2 linked regions of the Homo sapiens genome follow. The protein of the gene in region 1 interacts with the protein of each later gene in a biochemical or structural test. Each region holds a gene or a part of one and is shown in the gene's direction. Other genes may lie near its edges.

The links. Proteins that work in one complex are often made in the same cells at the same time.
Region 2: the proteins of GOLGA1 (region 1) and ARL1 form a complex in vitro, tested with the Homo sapiens proteins (one study listed by BioGRID).

The regions. Positions count from the first base shown.
Region 1 is NC_000009.12:124,877,764-124,882,113, reverse strand, and holds the end of GOLGA1 (golgin subfamily A member 1), read left to right. Parts: intron 1-159; coding exon 160-330; intron 331-856; coding exon 857-943; intron 944-1,503; coding exon 1,504-1,584; 3' UTR 1,585-3,839; downstream 3,840-4,350. UniProt on the Homo sapiens protein: Involved in vesicular trafficking at the Golgi apparatus level. Involved in endosome-to-Golgi trafficking. Mechanistically, captures transport vesicles arriving from endosomes via the protein TBC1D23.
Region 2 is NC_000012.12:101,397,773-101,404,813, reverse strand, and holds part of ARL1 (ADP-ribosylation factor-like protein 1), read left to right. Parts: intron 1-1,867; coding exon 1,868-1,949; intron 1,950-3,640; coding exon 3,641-3,752; intron 3,753-7,041. UniProt on the Homo sapiens protein: GTP-binding protein that recruits several effectors, such as golgins, arfaptins and Arf-GEFs to the trans-Golgi network, and modulates their functions at the Golgi complex.

The DNA.
Region 1 (4,350 bases):
CACTCCCTCCTCAAGCCTACCTGGAGGTGCTTCCTTCCCAGGTGGGGCCCTTTTTGCCCTACGATAGTGATCATAGTTTGGACCAGGTGAACCTCCCGTGTGATTTTTTCCACCTGTCTCAGAGGGTTCGGTGTAGCATCTTTCCCACTGGTTTTTCAGAAAATCAGACCCGATAATGAGCTCTTCGAAGTCCGGGAGAAACCTGGACCTGAGATGGCAAACATGGCGCCTTCCGTCACGAATAACACTGACCTGACAGATGCCCGCGAGATCAACTTTGAGTACCTTAAACATGTGGTTTTAAAATTCATGTCTTGTCGCGAATCCGAGGTAAAGGGCTTTTGAGGTGTCTTTTGGGTATTGAGGCCCCGCCCTACAGTCTGTCCTGCAGGGACCCCTGCCCAGCCCCTTTCTCTCTTTTCCTCGTACATCCTGGTTTGACGCCCTTGTGGTCACCCAGTCATTTCTCCTGCTGGCGTTGGCCTGCGGAGTGAGCGGCTGGCGGGAGAGGCCGTGCAGGAACTGGCTCCTGGTGGGAGACATAGGCTCCACTTCTAAATCCTGGCCTGGGTGCTGAGGCCAGAGGCCGGAAGCCGGGAACGGAATCCACCCATCGCTCCTGGGTCCTGCCAAAGGGTAGGGTAGCTGCTGGGGCAGTTCCCTTAAGCCTGCCAGGCCCCCGAGGATGCAGGGGAAGAAAGAACCTATCATTGCTGCCAAACTTCAGAGTGCCAGAGCGTCACCCACCACCTGGTCCTGCTAACCAAAGCAAGCAGGAAATGCCACGTAGCTCCCCCGACCCCACCCCGCCTCACCTTCACCAAGGCCTATGGCAGCAAAACTTACTGTGTTTCAGGCTTTTCATCTTATAAAAGCTGTGTCAGTGTTGCTGAACTTTTCCCAAGAGGAGGAGAACATGCTCAAGGAAACTCTGGAATATAAGGTAGGGTTCTCTGGTCTACTGTTCCAGCTTCCAAGATACGTTGTCAGTTATCCCAGCAGTAGCAGTGTAAGACCCCTTAGACCCACACCCGAGTGTAGGCACCAGCACAGCTGCATGATCAGCTTGGCTGCTTTTGGATGAACTTGATCCAAGCACTTTTTAGCGATGACATCCTTTGTGCCCAAATGTCTGTGCTGTACTTGACCAACAGGCCACGTATTTTTCAAAGCATTTTCATTGATAGCGCTTTATCGAGAGCCCCAGGTCTGGCTCGGCACTCAAATTCCAAAAGCGTCTGCATAAATGCTCTAATAGGAAAAAATACCTGCAGTTCCACTACCTTGTTCCTGTCAACTCAGTGTTTTTCTCTCATTTCCCTCCTGTACTGAGCACGGGCCTGCAGACTGGTTACTGGCACCATCTTCTTGCTCTGCTCAGAGCCAGAGGCAGGATGTGTGGGGGGCAGGAGTGACAGGCTCACGGGAGGGGAGGGGCGGTTCAGTTTCCCTGGCACCAAGTCCTGATTTGCATCTCAGAAGCCTTTTCTGTTTCAAATGCAGATGTCATGGTTTGGGTCCAAACCAGCTCCCAAGGGCAGCATCCGGCCGTCTATCTCAAACCCTCGGATACCATGGTCCTAGAGGGGACTACCCAAGGATGGAGCTCCGTGGGTTGACACTTTTTCTGTGAAAAGAACACTGACACACCAGTCTGGGTGGGTTTTTAATCACTGTAACTGCAGTATTTTGTACAAGTGTCTAAACATTGTTTACAAGACTAAGGCCCACTTCCCTGCAGGCTGACCTGAACCTCAGGGGGTAGCTGATCCTGTCATTCTGGTCACCAAACAGGAGGGTCCTGGCACTACCCAGATTTCCACAGTGCTGCTAATATCCCAGCTCCAGCCAGCACCCCATCTGCACCTGAATCCTCTAACTTCACGGTAGCACTTACAGCTGAAGCCATCAGCATCTGGCAGGCACACCTGAGTCACCATGTAGCGCTGCTACTGGAGGTAGAGACGGCCCTTTGAGATGGTGCCCAGCAGGCCAAACCCACCTGCCTCTGCCAGGAACAGCCAACTCCATGGGAACTCTATGGGAGTGGCTTTTAAAAATTCAGATGAGTTAGAAGCTTTTTATCCCTTCCTCTCAAGAAAATATTCTTTCACCCTGTCTCTCAAACCACCTAGAACTTTAGAGGATCCATCTTTAAGGGTCGGTGTGGATGAATGAGAAAATGCACCTTTCTGACAGTATCTCCACTTTACTTAAGAAAACTAGCAAATATATGAAAAGACCCTTAGTACCAAATACACTCAATTGCCTTTTTAATGAATGTACTTGTCTTGGATAGGTTGCTGGTAAACCATTTTAAACTATTTTTTATAGCTGAAGTTCTTCACTACTATAAACATGTCTTCTGTACTATAAAATCCATTTAACTGGTGTTCTTAAAATCAGAGCGTCCAGAGGAAATTCTTCCTAAAACTAGGATTCCTGTTCCTTTGTCTTCTCACTCGCACTCTGGCACTGCTCCCTCTGAAGTGCAGTGGGATCTCGTGTGCTTTGTCTTGATTCTGTGCTGCGCTGCCGCTGGGCGATGCAGACCACCTGTCTTCTACTGAAGGACAGTCCGCTGTCTCCAGTGGGGGCAGCAGCTGTCCCCCAGCCTCGATGGAGACACTGGGGCAGTCTGCCTTGTCTGTGGAGCTGCTCTCTCTCCCTCATCCCACCCCAAATACTTAAAATGACACTACACCCAGACGGCGCCCAGCTGGCTGCAGCACTTGTAGCATGCACATGACTCTGGTAGTAACCAACAAAAACTTGTTTTATGGATTCCTCGTTTACTGAGGAAAGGGAACATGCTGGTTCTGGAAAAGCCACAATATTGAATCTAAAAGGAAACCGTTTATTGTTTGATGAAAGTTTCACTGGTTAAATAAAAAACTAAATTAATAACTGGAGCCTCTAAATTTATTATCCATTATCCAGTGATGGAAAGTTGTATTTCTCAATCATGCTTAGGGCCAAAATAGGTATATAAAATGTGTCACAGAAAAACACGCATTTGCAACGTTAACCTAACGAAATTTCCATGAAGAACCAAGTCAGGGCAGCATCTCCTTAGTCCCAGCTCAGGCTCTCTGCCTTCCAGAGGCCGCTTCTCCAGTGACTAACCTCCTCCTCTGGCTCCTCCTTGCAGACAGTTATCCCTTGTTTAGAACACGAATTTCCATTTACCTGGTGGGAACACGAAACAGGAGTCTCTTCTGTTCTGCAAGTTTGATGGGTAAGAGGTAGCCTTTTTTCAAAGTAGGATTTCCTTTTTCAACTGTTCCAGGAAAGAATCTCTAAGACTGGGTAGCTCACAGCCAGCCAAAGGCAGCTACATTTCCACAGAAGCCCATCCGCTGCCTCCGTGGCTTCTCCAGCCATTGAACTGGTCCCACACGCACCCCAGGCCCCACTCCTCGGCAGTTTCAGGTGTAGCTGTGGGGCCCGTTCCTAGGTCTGTACTCACTTTAGGGAGGCTTCACTGACTAGGCTTTCCTCCTGCATGTTGAATTTCCTTCAGCTTTAAGAGGAAGAGTGGAATAAATATTCTAAGTGATTTAATGCACTTTGACTTGTATAAAACTTTCTGTGTTAGCGACGGTATCTATAGCCCTTTATACGAGCGATGGATCTTGAGCTCTCCTTCCATGTTGTAAATAGGGATTGTATTCTTGAAAACTGCTGTAGCAAATTCATCTGTGGTGCAATACACTTTTTGATTAAAGCTCTTCAATCCAGATGCAACTACAATGGATTTTACTAGTTTGGTGTGTCAGTATTTCTTTGACTCATTAAATCTGGTATTTTGTGTCTCATATTTAACACTCCAAGGCCAACCTCAAGGGCTAGAGAATGTTTGTCTTTCTTTCAGAAAGAACCTTCCCAGACTGGATTTGGGTGAATAAATATACGTAATTTAATGAAGCCAACAGCCCCATTCTACCCCCCCCAAGAATTGCAGTGGTTCTGAAGAGGGACTGAGGAGGGGAGAGCTGTGGAGGGGAGGACTGTGTCACTTTGGTCAAAGTCTGTATCCAAAGGCTGTATGACCCAGAGGAGCTTCTGGAGTGTGAATGGGGCCCTAACCTTTAACAGAATGCAAGCTGCAGTCACATGTGCTGAAAAGGAAAGAAAAGCATTTTTGCCCTTCAGAGAAGCTCTGTTATTGGTTATGGGGAACCAAATTATACCATCTATTTGCTGATTGATTGCTCCCCATTTCTGACGTTTAGTTCTTTAAAGAAAGCTTGTCCATGCAGCAGTGATTCTGCAGCACAGCCAACCCAGCATCAGGAGACGTGACCAGGCACATCTGAGGCCCCACCCTCAAAAGATTCCAAGTGCAAT
Region 2 (7,041 bases), on another chromosome or scaffold:
CAAAAATATTCTCCAACAGTCTTACTGACTATATGAGAATACTGTTGTTATTTATACTTTTTTCATTTGTTGCCTTGAATTTACTTAGAGAAGAGTAGTACATTTAAATTAAAGAGTTCATACAGTTTGCTCAAGATTTTTTAAATTATGCCTCTAATGTTAGTCTGTCACTCAGGGTATTTCTATATTGTTACTGTTTAAATTTATGGACTAAAACGAAAGAGGCTAGCCTCTAAGAAAGAAGAGCGTTTTGAACCCTGTAATGTCTGTTATTCCTTTTTGCTACCTTCAGTAAATTTTAGTGCCCTTAGTTTTTGCTTCTCAAAATCACCCATCTCTGTCTGGGCATCTCCTGCAGTGCACAGAGCAGCACAGTGGATAGTTTGGAGTTTCAGTGAGTGCTGCTTTACACCACACTCTTTGTTGAGACAGTGTCTTGCTTTTTTGCCCAGGCTGGAGTGCAGTGGCACATTCATAGCTCACTGCAGCGTCTACCTCTACCTCTACCTCCTGGGCTCAAGCGATCTTCCCACCTCAGCCTCCCAAAGTGTTGGGATTACAGGCATGAGCCACTGCACCCAGTCTACACCATTCTCTTGTCTTGCACATATAAACGATGTTTTTTACTGTTGGTGAACATTGTGATTACACTCCTACCTAATTCTAAGGGAGACATCATGAACTTGCATTTTAGTTTTTTGCTCAAATTTGTCATAGTATTGTTATTTTTTAATTGTAATAGACATACTTGCCAAATACTCAAAGGTATCACTTACCACTGCAGACTTAAATATAAAACAAAAGCTAATTGTCCAGTTATACCTGGAAGTTATTTTTTATTTATTTATTTTTTTGAGACAGAGTCTCACTCTATTGCCCAGGCTGAAGTGCAGTGGCAAGATCTCGGCTCACTGCAACCTGTGCCTCCCAGGTTCAAGCGATTCTCATGCATCAGCCTCCAGAGTGGCTGGGATTACAGGCATGTGCCACCACACCCGGCTAATTTTTGTATTTTTAGAAGAGATGGGGTTTCACAGTGTTGGCTAGGCTGGTCTCGAACTCCTGACCTCAGGTGATCCACCCGCCTTGGCCTCCCAAAGTGCTGGGATTACAGGTGTGAGCCACCGCACCCAGCCATGGAAGTTATTTTTTACCTATTTTTCACCTAAGAAGGATGGCAGAGAAAAGGGATGGGACACCTGCCCTTTGACCACCCAGCCATGACCTTATTACAAGTGAGTTCTGGAGGATGTCTGCAGATGGGCTGTGAGATTGAAAGCTGCAGCCATGGCTGTGTCCATGCTGTAGTTTAGAACTGAAGTTTAGCTTTTTTTCTTTTGGTCTGTTTATTTGCTGCCAGCCAAAATTCTGCTTTTTATAGTACATCCACAACTGTACTTTCTAAATACAGCTTTCGAACACTTTTAACTACTCTATTATGAGGGGAGTTTAATATAATAGGATTTCCATTGAGCTAAAAATTATGTTTTCCTTTTTATTTCTTTTTTAAATTCTTTTTTTAATTTATTTGAGCTAAAATTATATACTTTATTTGCAGAACTGCTGGCTTTTAAAAAATATCCTGAAGATGGTATTGATCTTGCTAATTGATGTTTTGTGCACACACCTGCACATGTGTGGGGGAGCAGAGCATACTATTTCGTCTTAAATGGTATAAAATCTCAACCAATAATGTGATTCAACAATTACCATTTCTTTTTAACTCGAATCCTAAGACAAATTATATATATATATATTTTAAACTCTAATAACAGTTACCATTAATTGCTGTAACTCAATTAGATAGGATATTTTGAAGGTGGAATGTATTAGTCTACACATACCACTGATTTGATTTCTCTTCCAGCCATTGGATTTAATGTAGAGACGGTGACGTACAAAAACCTTAAATTCCAAGTCTGGGATTTAGGAGGACAGACAAGTATCAGGTATGGTACAAAGACCAGGTTATTTGGTAGTATTTGACATTTATTGATTCTTTTAAGGGTTAAAATCAGTAAACCCGAATATGTGTTCTATTGTAATTTAAATGGAGCCACCTAGTTTAAAATGAGGTAAAATTGGGAACTATTTCCTTAGAGCATCCATTGAGTTAAAACTTAAGGAAGCCCAGTTTTCCAGATACCTGTTTAATGAAAATCTTTTCACGAAAATCTCAAGACCTTATTACTTCAGCTATTCTCAATTAGAAAGGACCCTCCATTTAGTTCTTGTCAGTCTCTCCTCTCTGAAACACATTGTTTTGGAATTCATTAAAGTACCTTGCAGGCATACCATTTAGGGCTAATATAAAAATAAATGCCATTGGCCGGGCATGGTAGCTCACGCCTGTAATCCCAGCACTTTGGGAGGCCGAGGTGGGCGGATCATCAGGTCAGGAGTTGGAGACCAGCCTGACCAACATGGTGAAACCTCGTCTCTACTAAAAATACAAAAATTAGCTGGGCATGGTGGTGCGTGCCTATAATTCCAGCTACCTGGGAGGCTGAGGCAGGAGAATTGCTTGTACCAGGACTTGGGAGCTGGAGGTTGCAGTGAGCTGAGATCGCGCAACTGCACTCCAGCCTGGGCTACAGAGCAAGACTCTGTCTCAAAAAAAATAAATGAATAAATAAAAAATAAATGCCTTCTGAAGTTCAGGTCTTCTGCTTAGCATTTTGGGCTTGACATGGCAACAGTGAATGTTTGATGACCGTCAGTAGTTGGTCACGATAGTACCATCTTAAAAGATTAGTAATGCATTCTCCAAACATTCTGACTTCTTTTAACTCATTTCTTGAATCACGTTTCTTTTTTTTTAAATTGTGCAGCCTCCCAAGCCAGAGTAGGCTCAGAGAGACTCCATTGAATCACTTTTGAGTTTATTTATAATTTTAGCCATTTCTACTGCTTGATGTCAGTGATTAATTTCATGACTGTTAAATAAAATCACGTTTAAAAAGTTTATTCCTCTTAAGGGGTGCCTAGTTAAAGATTTGTTTAAGAAGATGTAATGATCAGGTCTGTGTACAACTTTTCTATCAGTATATTTAGTGATTTCATAGATTATAAATAAATTTTGTCAGCCTGAAGTCTGAATGAATTCATTTGGAAACTCCCTGGTCCTGTGAGTCAATGTTTATCAACATTCTTTTTTTTTTTTTTTTTTTTTTTTTTGAGACAGAGTTTCACTCTTGTTGCCCAGGCTGGAGTGCAATGGCACCATCTCAGCTCACTGGAACCTCTGCCTTCCTGGTTGAAGTGATTTTCCTGCCTCAGCCTCCCGAGTAGCTGGGATTACAGGCACCTGCCACCATGTCCAGCTAATTTTGTATTTTTAGTAGAGATGGGGTTTCTCCATGTTGGTCAGGCTGGTCTCGAACTCCCGACCTCAGTTGATCTGCCCTCCTCAGCCTCCTAAAATGCTGGGATTACAGATGTGAGCCACCGTGCCCAGCCAATGTTTATCAACATTCTTTTGACTCCATCACATCTGAGGGATATGGTACATATATCCACCAGAAACAGTGAATCATTAAGGCATTGATTCTAACATGTGTGGGACAGAATTGGCAATTGATATGTCAGTTTCTTCCTTAAAACAATAACAATATGTTCTCCCCTTTTAAATTTTCTCTAGGCCATACTGGAGATGTTACTATTCAAACACAGATGCAGTCATTTATGTAGTAGACAGTTGTGACCGAGACCGAATTGGCATTTCCAAATCAGAGTTAGTTGCCATGTTGGAGGTAAGAAAACGTAACCACTTTAAAATGTGGGGCAGTCATTTACATATTATTACATTGAAGAATAATTAAAAAGAATGCAGGGGTTGTTCCCTCCATCCTTTTAAAATTATTTTCTTTTATGGAAATGATTTTCTATTCCAAAAATACAGTTGAGGAGGGTTGGAGACAAAACAACAACAAAAATTAACCTCGTAACTTCCTCTTCAAGCCAGATTGCTTGATTTTCCAGGAGGTTCAGAAGAGCTCACTTAAACAAAAGCATCTATTCTAAGTCACTTCTTTGATGTGACTTTTAAAATATGTCTTTTTATTTTTAGCTGTTTTAGAAGGATTCAAGTTCAGAGAAATATGTATTTCTGGGTTACTGGCACAATGCTGGCCTCACGTTTATCGTTTTTTATCCTTCCCAGTGTTTACAGTGCTTTTGACCTTCTTTCTGTTCTTTGGACACGAGCTTGCACACCTGGCTCAGGGCCTTTTGCACTTGCTGATCCGTCTGCTTGGAATACTATTCTCCAGCATCTTTGCATGGCTGCCTTCCTGACGTGTTTCTTCCCACATCTCTTCCCCAGAAAGAAGTCTTATTTATTCTCTAATCCTTTACCCTTCTTTATTCTTTATACCGATATTGTTTCTTTTTTTTCTTTTTCTTTTTCTTTTTTTTTTCTTTTTTTTTGTAGAGACGGGGTCTACCTATGGTGCCCAGGCTGGTCCCAAACTCCTGTCCTCAAGTGATCCTCCTGCCTCGGCCTCCTAGTGTTGGGATTACAGGTGTGAGCCATTGCACCCCACTTACTGTTTTTTTACATTATTTTTAAATGTATTTGTTGGCTGGGCGTGGTGGCTCACGCCTGTAATCCCAGCACTTTGGGAGGCCGAGGCGGGCAGGTCACCAGAGATCATCAGGAGTTTGAGACCAGCCTGTCCAACATGGTGAAACCTCATCTCTACTGAAAATACAAGAAAATTAACCGGGCATGGTGGTGTGTGCCTGTAGTCCCAGCTACTTGGGAGGCTAAGGCAGGAGAGTCACTTGAACCCAGGAGGCAGAGGTTGCAGTGAGCCGAGATCGTGCCCCTGCACTACAGCCTGGGTGACAAGAGTGAGACTCTGTCTCAAAAAATAAAAATTAAAAAAAAATATATTTGTTTACTTATGTATCTCTCCCTCTAAAATGTAAGTTCTTTGAGTTTACCCTGATAGGAGGAACAATGTATAGTACTTAATTAAGAATTCAATACATCTTATTCACTGAAGTTAATAAGATCATATATTGGCTAACTGATCAAATTCAGAGGATGCATTAAATAATCCATTTTTAAAAAATGAAAAAATAATCAAATGTACTATGATAATAATAAAATTGCCCTTGCTCTGGAAAATTAGATGGATAAGTTTCTTTCTCTTGTCAAAAACTGGATTCTGAATTGTTTAATCAAGGGATGTTTAAATATAAGTTCTAGGCCAGTTGATACCTAGGTAAAAGCATCCTCAGACGAGGGGACTATGTACTTTTGAATTCTTTTTTTTTTTTTTTTTTTTTTTTTTTTTTAGACAGAGTCTTGCTCTGTCGCCCAGGCTGGAGTGAGTGGCGTGATCTCCACTCACTACAATTTTCGCCTCCTGGGTTCAAGCGATTCTTCTGTTTCAGCCTTCTGAGTAGCTGGGACTATAGGCTTCTGCCACCACACCCGGCTTATTTTTGTATTTGTAGCAGAGATGGGGTTTCACCATGTTGGCCAGGCTGGTCTCGAACTCCTGACCTCAGCAGTTTGCCCGCCTCCTGATCTGCCAGCCTTGGCCTCCCAAAGTACTGGGATTACAGGCATGAGCCACCGCGCTCAGCCCAGGACTTTTGATTTCTTGAACTACTGACTTAATGGCTTCCAAGTTATAAATTGCAGACTTAATAGTTTTAAACATTTGGTTAATTTTTTTTTTTTTACATCATAGCATTATATTTATTATAAGAGCTTCTTAGACCAAATTTAAATGTAAGGATAAGGTTTAATTGCCTTGGGTATAATAGGTTTTTTAAAGAACAGTTTTATTTAGGTATAATTCACATGATATAGTGTATTTTTATCATATAAAGTATTGCTTAAAAGGAATGGATTATTGACTTCAGTTTACAATTTTTGAGTTGTGCAGGATTGTTGTTACTTGCAGTGTTAGGATTTGACTTATAAAGTCTTACAGAGAAAGAAGTAAAAGTTGGATTCTTTCTTTAGGAAGTCACTTTTAATTCATCAATAAATATCATGTTATGTTAAGTATGGGCCAAGTACGAGTCAGGACTGTTAATGTTAAAACATATAGACACAGGCCAGGTGTGGTGGCTCACGCCTGTAATCCCAGCACTTTGGGAGGCCGAGGCAGGTGGATCACTTCAGGTCAGGAGTTTGAGACCAGCCTGGCCACCCATATCTACTAAAAATACAAAAATGAGCCGGGTGTAGTAGCGCACGCCTGTAATCCCAGCTACACGGGAGGCTGAGGCAGGAGAGTCACTTGAACCCAGGAGGCGGAGGTTGCAGTGAGCTGAGATAGTGCCACTGCACTCCAACCTGAGTGATGGAGTGAGACTCCATCTCAAAACAAACAAACAAAAAATATATAGTATAGACACAAAAGCAGTTTAGGTTTCAACTTTTTTTTTTTTTTTGAGACGGAGTTTCACTATTGTTGCCCAGGCTGGAGTGCAGTGGTGCAATCTCGGCTCACTGCAGCCTCCACCTGCCAGGTTCAAGCAATTCTCCTGCCTCAGCCTCCTGAGTAGCTGGGATTGCAAGCGCACACCACCACACCCGGCTAATTTTTGTAATTTTAGTAGAGACGGGGTTTCACCATGTTGGTCAGGCTGGTCTTGAACTCCTGACCTGGTGATCCACCCACCTCAGCCTCCCAAAGTGCTGGGATTACAGATGTGAGCCACCGTGCCTGGCCTTTCAACTTTCCTATACACAAAAATGAATTCTAAATGGGTAAATAATTAAATGTAAAAAATGAAAATTATAAGAACATATAAGGAATTCAAAAGATGAGATTTAATTATATTAATGTAAACAAAACTCCCCCAAAGCTCAGATATGGCAAATATAAACAAGATTAAGATAAGAAACCAGGCCTAACCAGAAGCCAATGACTAAGGATTAGTGATCTGAATCATAGCAAGATCTTTTGCAAAATGAGCAAAAGGCAATTCGTAGGGGAAAAACATTGCTAATAACATTTGCATTTGTTTTTAAAGAGACAGGGTCAGCAGGGCGCGGTGGCTTATGCCTGTAAT